7 separate regions of the Homo sapiens genome follow, and regions 1, 2, 3, 5, 6 and 7 are each reported to be linked to region 4. Evidence: microRNA targets listed by miRTarBase, many of them from high-throughput screens and not tested one by one. Region 4 holds a microRNA gene; each other region holds the end of a gene's coding sequence.

Region 1 (3,081 bases), not on the chromosome of region 4:
CCACTTCTCTTTGTGATGTAATATTGCACAGTGACCCTAAGTGGAAGCCTTCCTGTGTCCTGGATGTGAGCTCCGCGCTGTCAGTGGTTGGCTTGTAAGCTCTGGCTCCAAGTGTTCTGAGGTGCAAGGAACCGATCTTGTGCAGTAGAAAGAGCTTTTGGAAGTTGGCAAGTAGCAAGGCTAGTTCTCATACATTCTATGCTCTGGCCACCTTTTTCTGTGGCAGGAAAACAAAACAGGCAAATGCACACAAACTGGGTACATTTAACTTTGCCTCCCTGAGCCATCTCCCAAGCCATTTAGCTTTGGATTGGCCTCAATTTGAACAAGGGAACAAACAAAATCATGATGATAACGATGATGACACCAGTCGTCCTTACTAAAGAAAGTGCTCAAAGTCCGGGTACCCGGTTAGGTTAGGAGCAGCCCCCAGCGCTAGATGCAGTCCTGCTGCCTCCTCCATGCACTGTCTTCCAGGTGCCTGTGCAGTCCTGGTTCGATGACATGACGGACACGGAGCTGCTGGACCTCATCCCCTTCTTTGAGGGCCTGAGCCGGGAGGACGACGTGTACAGCATGCTGCACAGACTCTGCAATAGGTAGCCCTGGCCTCTGCCTGCCTCCCGCCTGTGCACTCTGGAACCTCTGGCCTCAGGGGACCTGCCTGTCCTCAGCTCCCTGGGAGCTGAAAGTGAGGATACTCCGTGCTCCAGGCCACAGGGTGAATGTGGCCATGCCTACCTGTTTTGTTTTTTTAAGAACAGAAACAACTATTTTAAAAGAACTCTTTTAAGAAATTTCATAAAGGGACATGCATTTTACTGGGTTTGCTTTTCTTAAAACATACCAAAAAAGAAAAAAATAGAAAAAAAAAAAAAAAAAGCTTGATCTCTATCAGACTTCCTTTCAACTGTCCTCCCCTCCAAGCAGACCACCTGTCCCCTTCTATCCCAGCTCAGAGCAGCTGACCCAACTCAGAATCTCTTTCCTACAGGATGAAGTGCCTTTTGAATGTTATTTTAAGCCGAGAGTTAATTTTTCTACACAACATATTTCCAGACATCTTTTAGTCTTTTATTGTCTTAGATACTATAAGAAGATGAACATGACAATTTTCTAGAACCTGGTAGCGTGTGTGTGTGTGGCGGGGGGTGCTGAGGGAGGGGAGTGAGTCACAGGAGCCTGTCCCCCAACAGGTGTGACTGCTCTGACAACCTGTGGCATGCTGCAGGGTCAGGCTCCTGATAGGAGGATTTCATGACTATGTCATTGTCTCCACTCATTTTTGACCCAGTTTGGAATGTATCTGCAATTGTGTGGCTCAACACTTTAGGAAACAATAGATTATTTTATATTATTATTTCTGATGGTGACAAGTTTGTCTTGAGGTCACATTTTCTCCTTGAAAAGTGACATCCTGTCACTTCTGCTCTCACACTACTGCCATACATTTGTGTTTTTTGTTGTTATTGTTTGGGTAGAGCAGTTACAAGAAACCCTAAAACCCTTGGATATAAAAGAAATCTGTTTATTGATTTTTAAATCTTTCCTTTCCAAAAGCTGGATACACATGGAGCTGTTTGGGAATTTTCCTTGCTGCTACCGCGCTGCCACCAAATGGAATTGACCAGCGGCTGTTACACTGTTCTTTGCCACTGTGCCTATGCTCAGAATATGCTCACTGCTAAGCTACAAACTCGGACAGGGTCAGAAACAGAGGTGTCCCATCCCATTGCAGCCTCCACCACCTGTAACCCCTTCCTGGCATTGGCCACTGAAGGGTACAAAGGCAAAAGGACCACAGCACCACTTAGGTGTAGCATGGATTTTAAACTGCAGTCAGTATCAGATCCTGTTTGATAAATAAGCTGACTGTTCTCTCTTGAGAACCTGTGGCCTCAACCAGCCACCAAGCTGATGTGGCCCAAGTCCATCTCTTGGTCTTCTCCTTTGAAGCACAGCCTATTTCTGAGCCAAGGGTTGGGGAAGCCTGTCTAGATGTGGGACTCATTGCCCCAAACCAGGGAGAGGAAGAGCTCCCACAGGGAGAGCCCAGGCTCTCTTTGCAGCCTTTCCCAGTTTGGTGTTTAAGCAGTGCCATGTTCCTTGTTTGACAACAAGACAGTCTGTAAAGTATTGCTCTTAAAAACAATTAAAAAGAACCCTTTCATATTGGCACCATTGCCTTAGTCCTCTGTGGGTTGGTCTTCAGCCAGCATTCTGGTGGGAGTGACTGGCATTAACAAGACTGGAAATCGGGGGTCAAAGTAAAATATCTTTGTTTTGCTTTCATTCACAAAGTAATGAAGCCAGCTGCCAATTACATCCTCCCAACAGCACTTTGGTCTGTGGACTGCTGTGTGAATATTCAGAAGGGAAGTAAGTATTCAGGGGGTAAACAGGTCTCCCAGCATTCTGAGTGTTCCAAACCAGTAATCCACATGCCAATTCAAATAGAACAGCCCCTTGCTAGATATTACCACAGATAATGACAGTTACATGGTAGAACTGCCCATGCCACAAATATTTATTTGGAAAAGTAGTCATTAAATGAACCCACTGCCTTAAATGTCTTGAATGTTGCAGTCAAGTGTCTGTCATGTGTTGATATCCACACAGAATTAGGCCCTAATGAGAGCCTTAGACCCTCAACCATGCCCCCTTCGTTGGCATCACAGGGCCTTATTTGGAAGAGCGGGCAAAGAGGATGGAAATCATAAAATATTTCATGGGAATCGAACCTAGGGATAGTGCTCCACTTCTGACGATGGAGTGAAGACACTTGGCAGACTTGAGCCAGACACTTCACCTAGTAGTTCCTGAAACTGTGAGCACCACTGCACTAAGCCAGTGCGGAGCTGTTAGGGACGGGCCCAGCTCCTGCACCACGGACACAGAATGTCTGGAGAGGGCCAGCAGGCCCTCTGAGGGTTCTGGAATCTGTGCACCTTATTTGACCACACTCCAAAATTCTGTTTTTATTTTAACCCTTGAATCTGCTTTATGTACATAATCAAAATATCTATATCTATATCTATATCTATATCTATATATTTTTAATCATCTACATGTAAATGAAGC
Region 2 (3,081 bases), not on the chromosome of region 4:
GTAAAAATGCTTTAAAGGAATGATAATTTGTACTTACTGTTTATGGGGACTAGATATATTAGAATTATAGCATCATTATGGGGACATAGTGTTTCCCTATAAATTCAGAAATTCTCTGGTTGATGTAAAATCATACTTCCTGGTTTTACTTAATTAGTAAAGAAATAAATAAATTAGAGTAACATTTAGTCAGGTAGAGTTACTCCTTTTTCCCCTTCTTTATTAATAAATTTTATTTTTAGCACAATCATTTACCCAAAAAGAGAGTTTGAGAATGTTCGAGAATCTCTACCACTCGGTAACCATGCTGGCTGTTATATCAGAAAAATCCATAAACATACACAGCAGCGAGCTGTTTTCACAAGACTTCCTGCTAATAAACACAACACTTTCTCCTCCACTCAGATGGGAGCCTCAGATGCCAAAACGCAGATGTGCCAACTAACTATAGGCTCGTTGCTAAGCAGAGAAACCTATCAAGTTTGTCCAGCAAATTCGATTGTACAGTGGGATGGCGTCTGCTCTGCGGCCTTGGACAGGGAGCCACTGGTCTGTGCTGCTGTCCCCTGAGGCAGGTCGAAGCTGGTGGCCCTTAGAGGGCAGGTAAAATGGTTCTCATGGGTTAGAACATAAGGGCTTTGAGAAAAAATGCAAAAGGTCTCATTGAAATTGGAGGCCTATGTGAATCTGTTTACATGGAGGCATACTGAGATCTCGTTCTGTGCTTAGGTGAACTGCAGGTCTCACGCTGGCTGCATGACTTGGTGCCCCCTGGCTGGCTGAGCCACTGCCTGCCACCTTCTCATACCATTACGTGGGGGTCTAAAGAGGACATCATCCCCAACCAAAGAATAGTGAGAGAGAAAATCCCAAACATTTGAGACAGGGTTCAAAAGCACCCAGACGCCTTCTGTCTCTTTCCCAGTTCCCATCTGGCTAGGGACTGTGAATCAGAATTCAGAATCTGTGCTGCCCTGAGGGGACAGGCACCCAAATGCAATAAATAACACCAAGCTCAGGACCCAGCCACTGACCTTCCTCCACCACTGCTGCGGGTTATTCCTCGATGGGAACTGAAGGATCCAAGGGAGGAATCCGTTCCGCCCCCAAACCTCCCTGCACAACATCGAATGCGGGAGTCTGGCTGCTGCTTCTGCACAGGACAGAGCCTCCAGTCTTTTGCTTGAGAGCATCATTTATGGCATGGACTGGGAACGCAATGTGTTCACACAAATGCACGACAATTGTACATCAGCATCTTTACAATATTAAAGGAGCCATATACAAGTCTACAGCCATTGTACACAGGATGGTGATGGCTGGGGAGCCCCGCCCACCAGTCCTCTGCAGTTTCTCCACCGGAGAACACTTGGGGAGCTGTCACAAGGCCAGGGGGGGTCCATCTTTGGGCCTGTCGTGGGGGAGGCAGCAGGTCTGCAAGGACTCCTCAGGGCCAGTCCTCACTGGAATCAGGGGTCAAGAGCGCCAGGTCTGCCTGTGTCTGGGTCTCATCGGCAGGCTAGTGTAACAACGTGAATTAAAACTGTGCATATTCGCATGAGAAAACTGGAGCTGGGGATGGCTCCCTGAGCTGGGGACCTAGAAGACGCTGCTGACAGATGGGCCCCTTCATGGTGGGGCCCATTCCTGAGGTAACGTGCAGCCCTGAGGCTGGTCCGAACGGGAGGAGACTTCTCCAGCAGCCCAGGTGCCAGTCCACACAGACAGGACTGGAAGCCCCTGGGCAGCAGGTCAGGTGACCCGGGGAGTGCAGCCTGAGCCCCCAACGGCAGCAAACGTGAAGGTCTCAGGTGGTTACAGAATCACTCAGCCCTCAGGCCCCCACCACTCTCCTCCCAGCAGCCCTGCAGCACACATCCCTGCATCTGTCCCGAGAGCCCCAGCCCTGCAGGCATCTGGGCCTGAATGCCAGGCAGCTGGTCCACCCTGCAGCCATGCTGCACGTCTGACTGAGAACTGAGCACCAGATAAAGAAGCATTGGTCCTTGTCAGCCTCTCTGACTTTTGCAGTTAGGGCTGCATCCATTTTAAATACTGTAGAAAATAAGCCATCTCTCGGACGCTAGGAGACCCGCCAGAGTCTGCCCCGCGTGGAGAGGGATAAACAGCTCCTCTGAAGTAGCTGCAGACGGCTCTTCCAACCCCGCCCCAACAGGCCCCGGGGCCTCAGAGGATGCTGCGCCAGGCTGCGAAGCTGAGGGGCTGGGAGAGCTGGCAGCAGAGATCCCACCGCTGTATCTTTGGGTCGCATCAACAGTCCTTCTGCAGGCATGCCTCCAGCATCCCACGTTCTGTTGCCATGACACCTGGGACCCTGGTGCTCGCTGGGCCAGCTTTGGACCCTCCAGCCTCACCCTCGGTCTCATGCCCACGGCCAAGTATACACAGGCAGAACTCCCCAGCACTGTTTCCAGGTCCCTGGGGGGGCCCAGGTGGGCACTGAAGCAGGGCCTAGTCCAGGGGTTCCTGCTTGATTCGAACAGCAGTGGGGGTGGGCTGCGGCCGCCGCTCCTCCCGGCAAAGCACATACTCGCTGAACTGGGAGGAGTCCACACCGCCCCCACAGGACGCAGCCACGCTGAAACCCCTCTGGAACAGCCGCTCCAGGACCTGCCCAGGAAGAAACAGAGGTCATCAAGGCCAAGCTGCAAGAGGACACCTGGCTTGGCCTGGCAGGGAGGTGGGTGCCTGCTGGGGCAGCCAGCAAGGGCACCTTCTCCTGTGACGATCTCAGTCTTGCTCACTGACAAAGGTCCCTACAGAACCACGTGCTGGGTTCCACCACCAGAGGGACAGAAGTGGCCAGGCCCAGTGACCCCTCAGGTTAGCAAACCTAGTTGGACGACCCCACCCAGGCCACCATCCTGCTGCCCTCAGGGCCTTGATTCCGGGAGGCAAAAAGAGGCTTTGGGTCCCTTCTTTATTCTGTAGGGTGTAACCTATGCCCTCTCTCCAGACACATGGCCCCAAGTGTCCTCCCTGAGTCCTGCCCCAATAATGGAGAGTTCCCTGTCCTTCAGCCTCTAGGCATCCACCAGCTTCCCTGAGCTGTGCATTCCA
Region 3 (3,081 bases), not on the chromosome of region 4:
AAAAGGCACGGAAATTGAGAGTTTATTGTGGACAATGGGAAGTTTGATACCTATTGTATATCTTAAACATCCAAATAGAGACATTGATTAGACTGTTGGAAATGAGACTGGGATTCACAGGGAAAGGTCTAGGTTGAAGGTATAAATTTAGGAGACATTGTGTAAATATTTAAAACTGGAAATTCTTTTTTTTTTTTTGAGATGTTATTTCTCTCTTGTTGCCCAGGCTGGAGTGCAATGGCACGATCTTGGCTCAGCACAACCTCTGCCTCCTAGGTTGAAGTGATTCTCCTGCCTCAGCCTCCCAAGTAGCTGGGATTACAGGCACATTGTACTCCATAAATAGACACATACAGCCTTCCGAGTAGCTGGGATTACATCACATTGTACTCCATAAATATAATAATTTTATAAAATTATAATAATTTTATAAAAATATAATAATTTTTGTATTTTTAGTAGAGGCAGGTTTAGTGGAGACAGGGTTTTGCCATGTTGGCCAGGCTGGTCTCGAACTCCTGGCCTCAGGTGATCTGCCTGCCTTGGCCTCCCAAAGTGCTGGGATTACAGGCGTGAGCCACCGCGCCCGGCCTCAAACTGGAAATTCTTGAGATCACCTAGTGGGTGAGTGTAGGGGAAAAGGTGGAAAAAAGGTCCAAGGAGTAAGCCCTGGGACACCCCAACACTTACGGATTAGAAAAAGGTAGATTCAGCAGGAACAAAGTCGAGAAATTGGAGGAAAACCAAGAAAGCATTTGTCGAAGCCAGTGAAGGAAATAGTCTAGGAATACTGATGAGAAGCTTAGTAAGAAGAATGAAAACTGGCTATTGGATTCACCACACAAAGGCTATTGATGATTTTGACAAGAGCAGTTTCCATGGAGTGGTGGGGGTGAATACTTAATTGTAGCTGGTTCATGAGAGAACTGGAAGGGAAGAATTAGAGGTAGCAACTCTTTTGAGGAGTTCTGCTATGAAGGGGAGAAGGAAAAGAGAACAGCAGTTCAAAGATGCAGAGAAAAAAGTTTAAGAGATTTTACAGCATATTTGTATTGCTAATAGAATAATTGGTCAGGAAAAAAATTGACAATCCAGAAAAAAGACACTAGGAGTCAATGTAAAGCTAGAGGGTTGGGCTTTGATAGGAATAGTGTTGGTTCATTCTTAGTAAGAGGGAGGAAGGAAGGCTATAAAAGCACCAATGCAACTGGGTTAGCAGATTTGGTGGTTGGGTGTTGGGGGATGTGGAAGTTTTCTTCTGATCTCTTTTAGATTCTTAGTAAAATAGGAAATACAGTAACCAGCAGACTGAGGATGGGAAGGGGATGCTGAAGATTGAGGATAAAGATATGTGAATAGATTAAAGAAATAAACAGGTAGTATTGATAAAACTTAACTGATTAGACATAGGAAAATGTGAGACAAAGAAAACAAAGACAGATTTCTGATTTGGCAACTGGGTGGAGAGTGGAGGTGTCTTTCATTCAGATAGGGAAGTGTGTGGGAGAAGCAGGTCTGGGAGGAGGGGGGTTTGATTCTAACATGGAAAGTTTTGTGCCAGTGAAATCCAAGTGGATAAAAGTGTCTGAAGCTCAGAAGAGAAACCTGAGCTTGAGATATCTCAGCTCCCTGATCTGGAAGTTGTCAATATTAAGATAGTAGGAAGTGGAGAGGCTTTTGTGGTTGCTGTTTTCTCTGAGAGGTAAAGGGACTGGTGGTTTGAAATCAGAGAAGGGTTGAAATAGATTCTGGAGAAGAACAGCAACATTGACAAGGAGATAGGGGGATCATCAGGTACTCTTAGGGGGCACAGTTAAAGGTGGAGCTCTTATGTTGAGTAGTTCCAGCCTTACCATTGCAGAGCCCTGGGGCCCACATTTGTTTCTGGAACTAAAACCACCAGGGGCCCAGTGTCCTTCCTGCTTCTTCCTGCTGAGCCTCCACATCAGGGTTCCATCTCACCACCCAGCAACGTTCCCTGACCTTGAAGCCTATCCTTTATCTAAACGCAACACGCTTTCATCCTTGCTTTCCTGGTTAACTCCTACCCACCTTTCTCTACTCAGATCAGGCCAGGACTTTTTCAGAAGCCTTCCTTGACTGTTCCCCACATCCCCTGCCATGTGAGCAGGAAGTTTCTTCTCTATACCCAAATAGCCCCTCAAATACCTATTACAGCATAAAACATACAGCACTGTATCACTGATTTACTCGGCTGCCTCTCCCACTGGACTGCAACAACTTGAGGGCAGAGTGTTTTCACCTTTATAATGATCACTACTTAGTAGGTAGCTCAATACATGTGAAATTAATATAGGAGAAAAGAACTAAAGTCCAAAACCGACACAATTCTACAGGGTCATGATGTCCCCAGCCCGTGTCACACAAAGATGCTTCTAACCTTAGAAACCAACTCACAAAATAGAGAAATATCCTTTTGGTCTCAATATTATACCCCTTTTCCGTTCAGGAAGAAATCTTAGTAAACCCACAGAAAGGAAATATCCTTACATTATATTAAAGTACATTACCCCTTGCTCTCTCCTCTTCCCAAACACACAAAGCAGGAGGCATTGTATAAAGGCACTTTATTTTAAAATCAACACATCCTGCTTTTATAAATCAGTTACTCTTCATTTCCAACTTCCATCACCTGAGTTTGAGAGCAGAGTGCGTGGTATTTTTCTGGGCTTAAGGTATAAACTGACATGGCATTCAAGAACATGTCCAGCGGGCAGAGCCCATCAGGGCAACCTCTCGGCACCTGCTCCTGCAGAAGAAACATAACTCAGCAGGTCCGCCGAGGAACCTGTCCTTCTGCTATTTCCAGCTAAGCCCAGAGATCTGAGAGGCTCTGATCCATGTGGTATACATGTGCATACATATTACAGACAGGAAGGCCCCACTACCCGGTGAGCTTCCAGAATAAAAGCACTATGCTCTGCTTGTAAAAGTCACTCAAAAAGTGTTGAATTGACTGGGAAGAAAGAGTCGAGTTACATCCCCGAGCTGGGAGAACCAACAGGCTCATCCCTGGGGCGTGCTCTGGCCTCTGCCCTGGACCCCAGCCCTGATGAAGCA
Region 4 (3,081 bases):
AGATCTTCCCACCCCCACCCCCACCCCATGCTGAGCTGTCAGGGTGCTATTAAAATGCAGATTTCCAGGCAGGCTCAAGAATCTACATTTCAACAGGCTCCTTGGGTGATGCTTATGGCTACACCCTAAGCAATGTTCATAACTACCCACCCCATACTCTTTGCTAACACCCTGCCATCACCCCTTCCCCTCCCCACCCAAGGCTGGGAAGTCTGGTCTCTCTTCCTTAGTAGAGTTCAGAAAATTGTAGTAAGGGAAACTGAGGCAGAAGGCTGAGGAGTGACTTCCTGAGATCACCACCTCATCAAGCTGGATTGTCCTCTGGGGAGATAGACCAGCTAGAAGGGCAGAGCCCTGTAGTGGGGGTGTGTGGGAGCAGGACAAAGAGTCCTCGGGAGCAGGAAGGGTGGAGCATTAAGCAGTGTCTAGGGGAGAGCGGATGGCTTTGGCCAAGGTACCCAGATGGAGCTCTGAGGTCCACGGGAGGTAGTTCCTGGGGGTAACATCGCCAAGAGGTCTGCATAGTTTCTGGGCCAGGGCACCTGCTCTGACCCTTCCAGGATATTTTCTAGCCACCCTGCCTTCTGGGCCACCGCTGACCTGGAGTAGGCTGAGACTCTAGTGGCCACTCTGCGGAGGCCCCAGCTTGCCTGCCCTGGGTGCCAGCTCCCCAGAGACCCTCCCTCCCACCCTCTCCCTTCTTCCCGTCCTTCCCCAGGGCCTGTGACACCAGAGGCAGGGCCTCCACAGCAACTTCTCTCTAGGCAGCTGCTCTGGCAACCACTGATGCAACCTTCCCAGCCCCTCCCTCGCTCCTGAGCCTCCGCTTTCCTCCGCAGTCACTCCAGAGCCAGCCAGGAGCCACTCCCTTGCTAGAGTGCATCCGTGCCTCCGGCTCCCTCCAAGCCACCTGGGTGGCTGCAGGACTTCTCTTCTGCCCTCCTTTCCTGGCCTTTTCCTGCCTTGATCCTAGGCCGGCAGCAGAGATGCCCAGCCTGGGCGGTTCACAGTCTGGCCCAATCTGGTCTGGTTTGGGATGGGAGTGGGGGTGAGCAGCAGATTCGGTTTGTTCCTGGGGCTCTGTTTCTGCCACAGGGCAGGCTGGGGGGTGGAGGATAATGGAGACCAAAGTGCCTAGGAGCCTGGGCTGCTGGTGTCTGGGCTCAGAGGCTACGAGAGGCATCTTGGATGTCCCACTGGTCACTGCCCCTGTGGCAGGTTGGGTAGAGAGGAGGCTCTGGCCAGCTGCTTGCCTCTCCGAGCCAGAGTTACTCTGGCAAGGAGATGGATGGTCCTGACCCACTCCCTCCCCAGCCTGGAGGCGCAGTCTGGGTGATGTGGAGGGATGTGGGCCTTCAGGTGGAGATAGGAGACACCTTGGTGTGGTCTTCTCCTCTGCAAGGCCAGAAGGTCAGCTCCTCTCCCGCACTGTCCCTGTCTCCTTGAAGGTCATCTTGGGCTGATGGGGCATGTGGATCTTGTGAAGAGGTGGGATGGGGTGGGGGGTAGAGACCGTAGCAGCCGCTGCTGAGGGCCTGCTGGGGGGCCCCCAAGGGAGTGGGCAGGCTAGGAGCAGGGAACGGGCATCGTGGGCCGCTGGTCTCTCCGCAGGGTCGGCAGGCCGCAGAGTGTGACTCCTGTTCTGTGTATGGCACTGGTAGAATTCACTGTGAACAGTCTCAGTCAGTGAATTACCGAAGGGCCATAAACAGAGCAGAGACAGATCCACGAGGGCCTCCGGAGCACCTTACCCACTTCTGCCTTGAGTGCTCCTAGACGTCGGAAACAGGCTGCTTCCAAGGGTGCAGGGATGCAAGGCCCCTCGTCCAGTGTGTCCCCAGAGAGCCCGCACCAGTGCCATCTGCTTGGCCGATTTTGGCACTAGCACATTTTTGCTTGTGTCTCTCCGCTCTGAGCAATCATGTGCAGTGCCAATATGGGAAAAGCAGGACCCGCAGCTGCGTCCGCCTCCCCTGCATCCTTGTGTCAGGGCCCCAGCCTGCTCCTCCTCAAGGCCTCCTCACCGCCTCCCCAGCCCATCTGGCTCAGCTGCTGTGTGAGGGCCCAGCGCTGGTGGGCAGCCAGATCGCCTTACACTGCCTGGGGCCACGGTAGAGCTGGGAGCCCAGCAATCTGAGCTGGGCCAGCAGATGGGGCCGCCCAGGGCAGAGGTGGGGGAGTCTGAAACCATCTGTAGGGCCATCCTGAATGGTGCCGTGGGTTGGAAAGGCCCAGCCAGGCTCCCAGCACACGCTTGGGGTGAGACCTTGGCTGGCAGCACAGGGCCTGGTCTTTTCTGCTGCAGGTTGTGAAGGGGGCAGCTCCAGGCAGGTGGGCTGCCCTTGAGGTCAGCCTGGGTGTTTCCAGGGGGGCTACCGTCTCTGGAGCTGTAGCCTGCTGTGGAGTGGGTCATCTCCGAACAGCTCCAAGAGGAGGATACTTAGTGGGGCTCGGAGTTGGAGGGCATTTTCAGGCCTGCCCCTAGAAGGTTCTGGAGCAGAGGCCAATGTTCCCCTTCACACACCACACACTGGTAATGTAGCTTCCTGGGTCCCTGGATCTGGGCTATGACTAACTGGCCTATGCTCTCCATCTGGGTGTCAGGTGACATTACATATATAATCCCAACAGTTCCCACCTCAGCCCTGTGGGGCTTGTAATTTTTTAAAATAGTTATCTCATAGATGGGGAACCTGAGGCTTTGAGAGGAAAGGCTTGGCTGAAGAGGTTGGTGAGTGGTAGAGCTGGGTCACTGTGGCTCTTCCGCCACCAGCCACACCTTCCATGGAGGCACCCAGGGCCTGGAGGTGTCTCAGCTCTGAATCTACAGGCCTGGGCTCCCAAGGATGCCCCAGATGGCAGAGACTGAGGCTGGGAGGCCTGGACCTAGTCTGTCAAAGCTGGGGAGAGCCTGGCCAGCCAGGCTGGACCCATGTGAAATCTGGTGGTCAGCAATCAAGCAGGAGACCAGTGGCCGACTTGGGACCAGCTGGGAGCTATCATGCCCCAGGTCACTGGGCCAGCCCCTGATGGGGCTGCTTCTCCCCAGGGAGCCTCAGGCAAGGGTTGGTGGACTTAGCC
Region 5 (3,081 bases), not on the chromosome of region 4:
AGACTTCTGATACATTTTGAATGTAACAGCAGTAAAATATAGAGTAAATACTTCAATGTGAATCTGGCCTGTGACCATGCTATTCTGATTCTTTTGATTAAATTCTCCTCTCTGATAACTGCTGTCTTCCACTTCCAAGAATAAGACTAATTTTACATTTATCTTTGCTATATAACAGCTGTCATTCAATGGAGATGATCATCATTTCCTCTGCATTATTTCTCCCACACAATCCATCCCTAGTAACCTATCACTTGCCTCTCATGAATACCCTTAATATTCCATCAATGTCCTCACTGGTATTTCAGTCAGTTGGTTGTGCAATTATTTTCTACAACCCAAAGTGGCACTCTACGTGTTCATGGACACCTGGAACACAAGCACAACTTACATCATAAACTTACATTATTCTCCCAGTTACTCCATGGTGTGTAACTCACAGAATATTGAATTTTAAAATTCAGTGACCTTAATCTTCAGGAAGCATGGAAATGAAGGAGCCACACTGAATGAAGGAGGCTCTCTCATCTTGTTGATTCATTCCCAGATACCACAATGAAGGATATGTAAGGAAGATGATAGACTTCAAACCTTAGGATAAACGTCATAGTCTAGTAGCTATTTTAAGAAACGCCCCATTGGCCAGGTGTGGTGGCTCATGCCTGTAATCTCAGCAACGTGTGAGGCCAAGGTGGCAAATCACTTGAGGCCAGGAGCTTGAGATCAGCCTGGCAAACATGGTAAAACACCATCTCTACAAAAAAATATAAAAATTATCTGGACATGGTGGCATGACTGTAATCCCAGCTACTTGGGAGGCTGAGGCACAAATTGCTTGAAACCAGGATGTGGAAGTTACAGTGAGGTGAACTGGTGCCACTGCACTACAGCATGGGGAACAGAGCAAGACTGTCACAAAAGAAAAAAAACAGAAACCTCAAATTTAATGTAATATTTTATAAACTGAATGAGCCATTTTCACACATGCACTTGCTCCTTTAAAATACATACTGTCCTGAGTTTTAACAAATGTTGTCTGGTAGTTATTCTGTAATAATATTCCAGGCCAATCTTGGAGAAGCAGATTTGGTTATCCCTAGTATGATTTCAAAGATGTGTAGTCTGTTTAAAAAACTGGTTGAAATTTGTGCCACATTGATTACATTTCCAAGTTTTCTCTCAAGTAGGGATAATTTGGTAAAGGCTGAAGACACACTACTGCTTCCAGGTCCTTTCATGTTCAGCATACTTACAGGATTTTTCTCCTTTATACGTTCAATCAAACTGCAAAGGCGTGGACATTGGTTTTGTCTCACTTTAAGTTCTGGGTACATGTGCACAATTTGCAAATTTGTTACATAGGAAAATGTGTGCCATGGTGGTTTGCTGCATCTACCAACCCATCACCTGGTATTAAGGCAAAAATGCATTAGCTATTTGTCCTGATGCTCCACTTCCCTGCCCTTCCCACCCCCATCAGCAGGCCCCAGTGTGTGTTGCTCCCCTCCCTGGGTATATGTGTTCTCATTGTTCAGCTTCCACTTTTAAGTGAGAACATGTGCTGTTTGATTTTCTGTTCCTGTGTTAGTTTCCTGAGGATAATGGCTTCCAGCTCCATCCACATCGCTGCAATGGACATGATCTCATTCCTTTCTATGGCTGCATAGTATCCCATGGTGTATATGTACCACATTTTCTTTATTCAGTCTATCACTGATAAGCATTTGGGTTGATTCCAGGTCTTTGAACATTTCATTTTTTAAAACCATTTATTTGGAAGGTTGTCTCTAGTATGAATACTCTTTCCATTTTGATGTTCGGGTAAAAACCTTAGCATGCACATTACATTTCTGTGGTTCCTCTCAAAGATGTATATTCTGATGCCTAGTGAGTTCCAATGCCTGGGGAAAGCCTCTGACACATACATTTATATGATTTCCTTTCAGTATAAACTCTCTTATGACAAGTAGTGATTGAACTCTAGTAAAGGTTTTGCCACCCTCATTTCATTTCATACATCTATGCCCTTTTAATTACCTAGATTTACAAGTTCTGGCTTTTGAGTAGAATTCTTGCCACACGTATTACACTTCTGTGATTTTTCTCCAGGATGTATACATCCTGGAATATATATACAAATTCTTACACCTAGTGAGTAGTGAATACTAGCTTAAAACTTAGGTATATTTACTGCATGTGTAAATGTATTAGGTCATAACTGCATTGCTACAAAAAAAAACCTGAGGCTGGCTAATGTATAAAGAAAAGAGTTTAATTGGCTCATATTTCTGAAGGCTTAAATGAAAACATGGTGCTGGCATCTGATCACCCTCTAGGGAAGCCTCAGGAAGGTTAAAATCATGGTGGAAGGCAAAGCGGGTGTCGGTATTTCACATGGTGAGAATGAGGGCAAGCGACAGGGAAGTGCTATGCACTTCTAAACAGCCAGACCTCAAGAGAAGTCACTATTGCCAGGACAGCACCAAGGGGATGACGCTACATCTTTCTCAGTTTGAGAAATCCACTTCCATGATTCAATCACCTCCCAATGGGCCCCACCTCCAATACTGGAGATTACAATTCCACAGGGATTTCAAGAGAAGGGGTAAATATACAAGGTATATCAGTAAGTAGGAATTATTCGGTGATTCCAGAAACTAGGACAACGTCTAAGGCCTTGTCACATTGAGTTTAGTTGTAAGGCTCTCTCCAGTATGTCTTATTCGATGTTTAGTGAGGCCTGAGCGACAAATAAAAGATTTCCCACACTCATTACATTTATAAGGTTTTTTGCCAGAATGAATTCTTTGGTGTTTGCTGAGGGAAAACAACCGCCCAAAGGCTTTGCCACATTCAATACATTTGTATCTTTTCTCTCCAGTGTGGATTCTCTGGTGACTTACAAGATGTGAACTATGCCTGAATACCTTGCCACATTCATCACATTTATATGGTTTCTTTCCTGCATGAATTATCTGATGTGCAGTGAGGTTTGAGCTCCGTTTAAAGGTTTTGCCACACTCATTACATTTGTAAGGTCTGTCTCCAGTATGAACAGTCTGATGAAGTCTAAGATGGACA
Region 6 (3,081 bases), not on the chromosome of region 4:
TGGGGCCCTGCTGTGTCTGTTGCAGCAGCCCCTGCCCAAGTCTCAAGTCCACAGGAGGCCCCCCTGTTGCTGTGAGTTACTCCCCTTCGCTCACTGCTTTGTGTGTCCCAAACCCTATTCTCACCATTAATCTGGCTTCAGTATATCCCCAGCAGCCACCTACCTTCCACTCCTGCCTTACCAGGTGCTTGTCAGGAGGTCCAGACCACGAAATTGCCCAGCAGCTGCCTCAATAGCCTGGAGAGCTTGGAGCCCCCGCTCCAGCCTGGAACATCTCCAGCCCAGACAGGTCAGCTGCAAAGCACACTAGGAGGAAGGGGACCTAGCCCGGAGGGCTACCTGGTGGGAAATCAGCAGGCCTGGCTTGCCCTCAGGCAACACCAGCGACCCCGTTGGCACCTGCCGTTTTTTTCCTGCCTGGGAACCAGTCCTGAATCCTAAGGAGCCTGGGACCAGGAGCCAGAAAGTTAAGAGCTCCCCATCTCTAGCTGGAAAATCCAGACATTTGGAATTGCATATTAAGGAAGCCCAGAACTGGAAGCTTGGAGGAAAGCATACTGGAGAATAAGCTACAAAGAGCCTGGGCTTAAGAATCCAAGATTAGGGGCTGGGCGAGGTGGCTCACGCCTGTAATCCAGCACTTTGGGAGACCGAGGCAGGCGGATCATGAGGTCAGGAGATCAAGACCATCCTGGCTAACACGGTGAAACCCTGTTTCCACTAAAAATACAAAAAATTAGCCGGGCGTGGTGGCGGGTGCCTGTAGTCCCAGCTACTCGGGAGGCTGAGGCAGGAGAATGGTGTGAACCTGGGAGGCGGAGCTTGCAGTGAGCTGAGATCCAGCCACAGCACTCCAGCCTGGGTGACAGAGCAAGACTCTGTCTCAAAAAAAAAAAAAAAAAAAATCCAAGATTAGGCAGGGCATGGTGGCTCACACCTATAATCCCAGCACTTTGGGAGGCTGAGGCAGGCGGATCACCTGAGGTCGGGAGTTCCAGACCAGCCTGACCAACATGGAGAAACCCCGTCTCTACTAAAAATACAAAATTAGCCAGGTGTGGTGGCGCATGCCTGTAATCCCAGCTACTCAGGAGGCTGAGGCAGGAGAATCGCTTGAACCTAGGAGGCGAAGGTTGCGGAGAGCCGAGATTGTGCCATTGCACTCCAGCCTGGGCAACAAGGGCAAAACTTCGTCTCAAAAAAAAAAAAAAAAAAAAAAAAAATCCAAGATCACTCCAGCACCTGGAATCCAGAGTAAAGAGCAAGACCATAGCCTGGAACCTGAAGGTCAGACCCTTGGGAGGTTCAGGCCTAGTTCTCCATCACTGAAGATATCTCAGGGATAAAGAGTTGAGTGCTCGGCCAGGTGAGGGGGCTCACGCCTGCTCACGCCTGTAATCCCAGCACTTTGGGAGGCCTAGAGGGGCGGATCACGAGGTCCGATCAAGACCATCCTGGCTAACGCGGTGAAACCCCGCCTCTACTAAAAATACAAAAAATTAGCCGGGCGTGGTGGCACGCGCCTGTAGTCCCAGCTACTCAGGAGGCTGAGGCATGAGAATCGCTTGAACCCGGGAGGCAGAGATTGCAGTGAGCCGAGATCGCGCCACTGCACTCCTGCCTGGGCAACAAGAGCAAAACTTCGTCTCAAAAAAAGAAAACTGGCTAGAATGCACTTCAACTTAAGTCCTGGGAGCTACGCTAATTCATGGAGAACCACAGAGGTTTAATAGGCATTTCTATACCTGGATCAGCCCCAAGGACAGTATTACCCTGTACTGCCCTTCCTATTACTATTTTCAGTCATTTACTAATATTGGGCTGTAGTACTTTCACGTTTAAGCTTTGGCTATTCAGAGCTCACTACGTTTAATCTTCAGTTACCTGAATGGTGTTTACCTTCTGGTGTGGATCATCCCGGCTTGTGTTAGTGCTCTCTCTTTGGAAGAAGCCAGGATTTAAGATCGAGTTAGCCTAGATGTGGCCCAGCAGGGTACAGAAGGGGAAAGGCTGCAGAAAACGGGCGTATTTTCGTGCAAAGAGGTTTTTGCGCCATTTATTTATGGTTTTCACCGTCGTATGAGAGGACTATTCATGATAGGCTGTATTTGCTGACAGCCTACTTTGGGCTCCCCCATGCGTTGTGCCGAAACCACCTCTTTCTTTCCTGCCTTCCTCCGCCTGGGCTAGGAAGCCCAGAGCTGCGGTTCGCAGGCCTGCTAAGCAGCCGGCGGCCGGAAGTCTATCCCGCAGAAGCGCAGCCATTCACGGCCTCACGCAATGCGACACTTCCGCCTGCACGAGTTCTTCCGGGGCGGAGGTCACCATGGCAGCTGCCTTGGCTCGGCTTGGTCTGCGGCCTGTCAAACAGGTTCGGGTTCAGTTCTGTCCCTTCGAGAAAAACGTGGAATCGACGAGGTACGAAGGGGAAGTGGGTAGAAGCGGGAAGTGGTGCGCCTTCCTTCAGCCGGGGCTTTAAGCCCTCAGCTTGGCGCTCCTCTGTTTTTCCACCGTAGGACCTTCCTGCAGACGGTGAGCAGTGAGAAGGTCCGCTCCACTAATCTCAACTGCTCAGTGATTGCGGACGTGAGGCATGACGGCTCCGAGCCCTGCGTGGACGTGCTGTTCGGTGGGCTTGGTGGAGACGGGCAGGAGGGAACAGCGAGCAGCCCGCGCGCCCCTAAGCCCCAGCACTGCGGTCCCTCCCTGTCTCACTCGTTTGTTTCTTCCCCAGGAGACGGGCATCGCCTGATTATGCGCGGCGCTCATCTCACCGCTCTGGAAATGCTCACCGCCTTCGCCTCCCACATCCGGGCCAGGGACGCGGCGGGCAGCGGGGACAAGCCGGGCGCTGATACTGGTCGCTGACAGCGCCAAAGAGACCAACAAGATGATTTTAGCGTGGACTAGGACACTTAACCTAAGAAGAGTTTCACTTAATCATTCAAATCACTATCTGAAGGGTCACGGAGCGCAAAATAAAGTTTAAAACCCTGCTACCACAATGTTTCTGGAACAAGACTAGATCAGAGAGGTGTCTGGATGAACCTGAATTTATTTCACTTTCTTACTATCACTCAC
Region 7 (3,081 bases), not on the chromosome of region 4:
AAAATCCAAATCCCACTTGAACCAACTGAAGAAAAGAAGAAGATTGGACTCAGATGCTGTCAACACCATAGAAAGTCAGAGTGTTTCCCCAGACCATAACAAAGAACCTAAAGAGAAGGGATCCCCAGGGCAGAATGATCAAGAGCTGAAATGCAGCGTTTAAGAGACATGTCCAGTGGCCTTTGGAAAGGTGGTGGGGATCCAGTTCAGGAGGGAGGGGTATGTTTGTCTCCCAGTCTGGGCAAAGGAGTGCTATGCGGAATTCTCTGCATAGCAGAAAAGCTCCCACCATTTTCTTTTGATGTGGTTTTAAAGTCTCACGTTCTCTATAATAGAAACAGCAGGTCTTGTCAGCTCCTTGTGTGGCTGATGTGTCTGGAAATGATGTAGTTCAGGAAAGCATTTTTTTTTTCTTTGAACCTTAAAGGTTCTATTATTAAAAGCAGCACAGATTCCACATTTTTATACATGAGGATCTTCTTTGTGGTGAATACCAGGATTGACTGCATCCCTTTAAAGAAGTTTTATGTCCCTGACTCTGGCTAAAATTATCTAATTTCCAGATGCTTTTGTAGATGACTGAAGTATTTGTGAGCCACATATTGGGAGTTCTAGATTTGAGTGAATGGCAGGAAAGGGCCATCTCCATTGAGATGATTAAGTGAACCAAACTAGTTCTCAGAATTCTACAGAGAAGGAGGGAATCAGACTGAGGAAGCTGTGACATAGGACTTGAAGACCAAAGACTTTGAAATTTGCGAGCTGCTCATGTGTGAGTTATTATCACTGCTGTCTTTCTATTGAGTTACAAATCTATATTTTTATTGAAGTTTAAATAAAGAAAAAATTTACAAGAGCCTCTTTGATCCTTAAAAAGATATACAAGTCCATGCCTAGTTTATACACAGTATGCTCTGTTATCAATGTGATAGCTTTTTCTCAAATTTGACACTTTTTGTAGATCATGCTGTCTGTTCATTTATGTAGCGGGTGTTTATTTAACACGTTATAGTCCTTGAAGACATCTAGAGAGGGTCTTTTATTGGAGATCTATTACTTCCAATTGAAGCCCTCTTTCTGGAGTGACCTGAGCTGCCAGCAATGTTAAACAGATACTTATTTATATATAACATCAAATATAGCATTTTTAGGGTATAATTCAGCAGCATTAACTACATTCACAATGTTGTGCAATCGTTGCCACTATTTCCAAAACGTTTTTGTCACTCCAAACAAACTTTGTGCCCTTTAAGCGTTAACTCCCCATTCAAATACATTTTGTTTGTGCAGAATCTACTCTATGAGAGGCCCTGAATTAGGCTAAAGGGAATGCAGAGATGAGATGTGGTTCTTGCCTTCAGGGAGCTTATAAATAATTGCATGTGTACACAAACACCAATCCAGGCAAGACAGTATCAAAGGCCGTAAGAGCTGTGTAGAATTTCAGTTTAGAAGGAAGGGAAGGGATCATGGAAGGAGGAGCATTTCTGCTGCACCTTGAAAAGCAATTCTTGATAAATGTTTTGTTTCCTATGCATATAAGACTTCATAGAGGAGAAGGTAGAGTAAAAAAACTATCTAACTTGATTGACCTTTTTAAACAGTGCTGAATTCCAGAGCCTCACCCACTTTTAACTGATTTGAATCTCAAAAATAAATTTATTCTCTGGGCAAAGAAGTTTATTAACTACTTTAGGACCTAACAAGGTGGGAAGCCACATCTTCCCGGTGGGAGTGGAGATGAGTACTTACTGTGAGCCAAGCAGTGCCAAGTCGTTTTTATATGTTATCTTCTCACACAGCCCTGGGAGGGAGATGCTGTTTCCTTTGCTGTTAACCAGGGAGGAAACTAAGGCTCAGCAATGGAGTACAGCTAGCAAGCGGTAGAGCTGGAATTGAGGTGAGGCTGGTAGACTCAAGCTATTAAGCACTGTGTTAAGCTGGCAGTTTGTAGGGAAGAACCTTTAGTTTCTCTGAAATATTCTTCGTTCAAGTTGCTAAGTATGTTTTAAAGCCTAAAAAGGTTTCAGTAGACAAGCAGGAAAAACTAGTTTTAATAATTGTACGTCAAAAAGCTTTTAATCCTTCCATCTGAAATACCTGGAGCAGTAACTTCTCATTGAACTCATTGTTATCTCTATGGCAATTGGAAATCAGGCCTTTTTTACCAAAAAAAAAGTGTCTAATATTTATGAAGCACTTACTAAGTGTAAGGCAGTGTGGTTGAGCCCACTGTTCATATTCTTAGAAATTGTAAATTCAGCCAAATGAAATTCCTTTATCAGCAGCAAAGAGCCTGGGAAAGGCAGAACACTCACTAGAAATCTGCCTGGTGCTCTGGTCTGAAGCATTGCCCTGAGTAGATTTCCCCTTTTGTGCCTGCTCCCCTATGAATGACTTCGCTGTTGAGTGTAGGGAAGGAAAGTAATTTGTCTTGTGGTGGTCGTAAATGTAGAGATGAAAGAATTCTTTATCTCTTGTATGGATGGGGAAACTGAGGCCTAAAACATGGATGTTCCAGTCACAGAGCAAGGCAAAGCTGGGACAAACCTTAGATCACCTTTCTTACTCTATTACTAAATCTCATACCAAATCTCATTTGAGAGCTGAAAAGTACCATAGAGCTTTGGGCTATTTGCTCAGCCTGGAGTGAGAATGAGGAATGCCATTTTGTACCATCTGGCCATAGCAATCCCAAGGCAAGCAGAGCCCTCCAGTCCAGGTATCCAGAGCCTCCAGTCCATCACACCAGCAGTGCTATCTAAATGGCTTTGGCAATTAATTCCAATACTCAGTGAGCTATTAGGTTCATCTGCTTCTGTCAGTAAAAATCTTGATTAGGCTTTAGATACTTCTCACAGTTCAGGCAGTGCTGTTGTAAGTGGGTAGAAAGTACTTTGATTCTGAAGAGAGATCTAGACTTGAAAATACTTTGCTTGATTCTTAGGGCTAAGCAAGAGAACAGCTCATCTGTATTCCAGGAATATGGCTTGATCCTTCCTAACTCTCAGTAATTTTTTGTCCTCTCTTAGCTCTCTTTAGTTCCAAAGAGGATTTTTTTGCTTAAAACAAAACAAAACA

What was found. Region 4 holds the annotated microRNA hsa-miR-183-5p (UAUGGCACUGGUAGAAUUCACU, at 1,648-1,669, shown strand). A microRNA usually pairs through its seed, bases 2 to 8, with sites in the 3' UTR of a target mRNA and lowers its output. Matches are read on the target gene's strand: a 7mer-m8 pairs with bases 2 to 8, a 7mer-A1 pairs with bases 2 to 7 and ends in A, and an 8mer does both.
Region 1: miRTarBase lists CTDSPL as a target of hsa-miR-183-5p. Seed matches in the 3' UTR shown: 7mer-A1 at 1,442-1,448 and 7mer-m8 at 2,095-2,101.
Region 2: the mRNA of KCTD15 is a reported target of hsa-miR-183-5p. Seed matches in the 3' UTR shown: 7mer-A1 at 1,198-1,204.
Region 3: the mRNA of ACP6 is a reported target of hsa-miR-183-5p. Seed matches in the 3' UTR shown: 7mer-m8 at 238-244.
Region 5: the mRNA of ZNF616 is a reported target of hsa-miR-183-5p. The part of its 3' UTR that is shown has no 7-base or 8-base seed match.
Region 6: the mRNA of CCDC142 is a reported target of hsa-miR-183-5p. Seed matches in the 3' UTR shown: 7mer-m8 at 1,152-1,158.
Region 7: the mRNA of TRIT1 is a reported target of hsa-miR-183-5p. The part of its 3' UTR that is shown has no 7-base or 8-base seed match.

What each region holds. Positions count from the first base shown.
Region 1 is chr3:37,980,265-37,983,345 of GRCh38, forward strand. It overlaps CTDSPL (CTD small phosphatase like), which reads left to right. Exons shown (of 8, transcript NM_001008392.2): 8 at 478-3,081. The coding sequence ends at 603. Among named protein-coding and RNA genes, the nearest start is that of VILL, 9.0 kb to the right of the region's middle.
Region 2 is chr19:33,812,340-33,815,420 of GRCh38, reverse strand. It overlaps KCTD15 (potassium channel tetramerization domain containing 15), which reads right to left. Exons shown (of 7, transcript NM_001129994.2): 7 at 1-2,631. The coding sequence ends at 2,473. Among named protein-coding and RNA genes, the nearest start is that of KCTD15, 17 kb to the right of the region's middle.
Region 3 is chr1:147,644,797-147,647,877 of GRCh38, forward strand. It overlaps ACP6 (acid phosphatase 6, lysophosphatidic), which reads right to left. Exons shown (of 10, transcript NM_016361.5): 10 at 1-2,770. The coding sequence ends at 2,627. Among named protein-coding and RNA genes, the nearest start is that of ACP6, 24 kb to the right of the region's middle.
Region 4 is chr7:129,773,555-129,776,635 of GRCh38, reverse strand. It overlaps MIR183 (microRNA 183), which reads left to right and starts at 1,622; the gene lies at 1,622-1,731. MIR96 (microRNA 96) reads left to right here and starts at 1,867; the gene lies at 1,867-1,944. RefSeq lists an enhancer at 2,542-3,081.
Region 5 is chr19:52,112,149-52,115,229 of GRCh38, forward strand. ZNF616 (zinc finger protein 616) reads right to left here. Exons shown (of 4, transcript NM_178523.5): 4 at 943-3,081. The coding sequence ends at 2,670. Among named protein-coding and RNA genes, the nearest start is that of ZNF841, 18 kb to the left of the region's middle.
Region 6 is chr2:74,471,906-74,474,986 of GRCh38, reverse strand. It overlaps CCDC142 (coiled-coil domain containing 142), which reads left to right. Exons shown (of 9, transcript NM_001365575.2): 8 at 1-71; 9 at 185-2,155. The coding sequence ends at 441. MRPL53 (mitochondrial ribosomal protein L53) reads left to right here and starts at 2,307. Exons shown (of 3, transcript NM_053050.5): 1 at 2,307-2,418; 2 at 2,517-2,629; 3 at 2,735-3,005. The coding sequence starts at 2,327. The coding sequence ends at 2,868. RefSeq lists enhancers at 2,269-2,368, 2,769-2,898.
Region 7 is chr1:39,838,826-39,841,906 of GRCh38, reverse strand. TRIT1 (tRNA isopentenyltransferase 1) reads left to right here. Exons shown (of 11, transcript NM_017646.6): 11 at 1-3,081. The coding sequence ends at 163. Among named protein-coding and RNA genes, the nearest start is that of LINC02811, 23 kb to the right of the region's middle.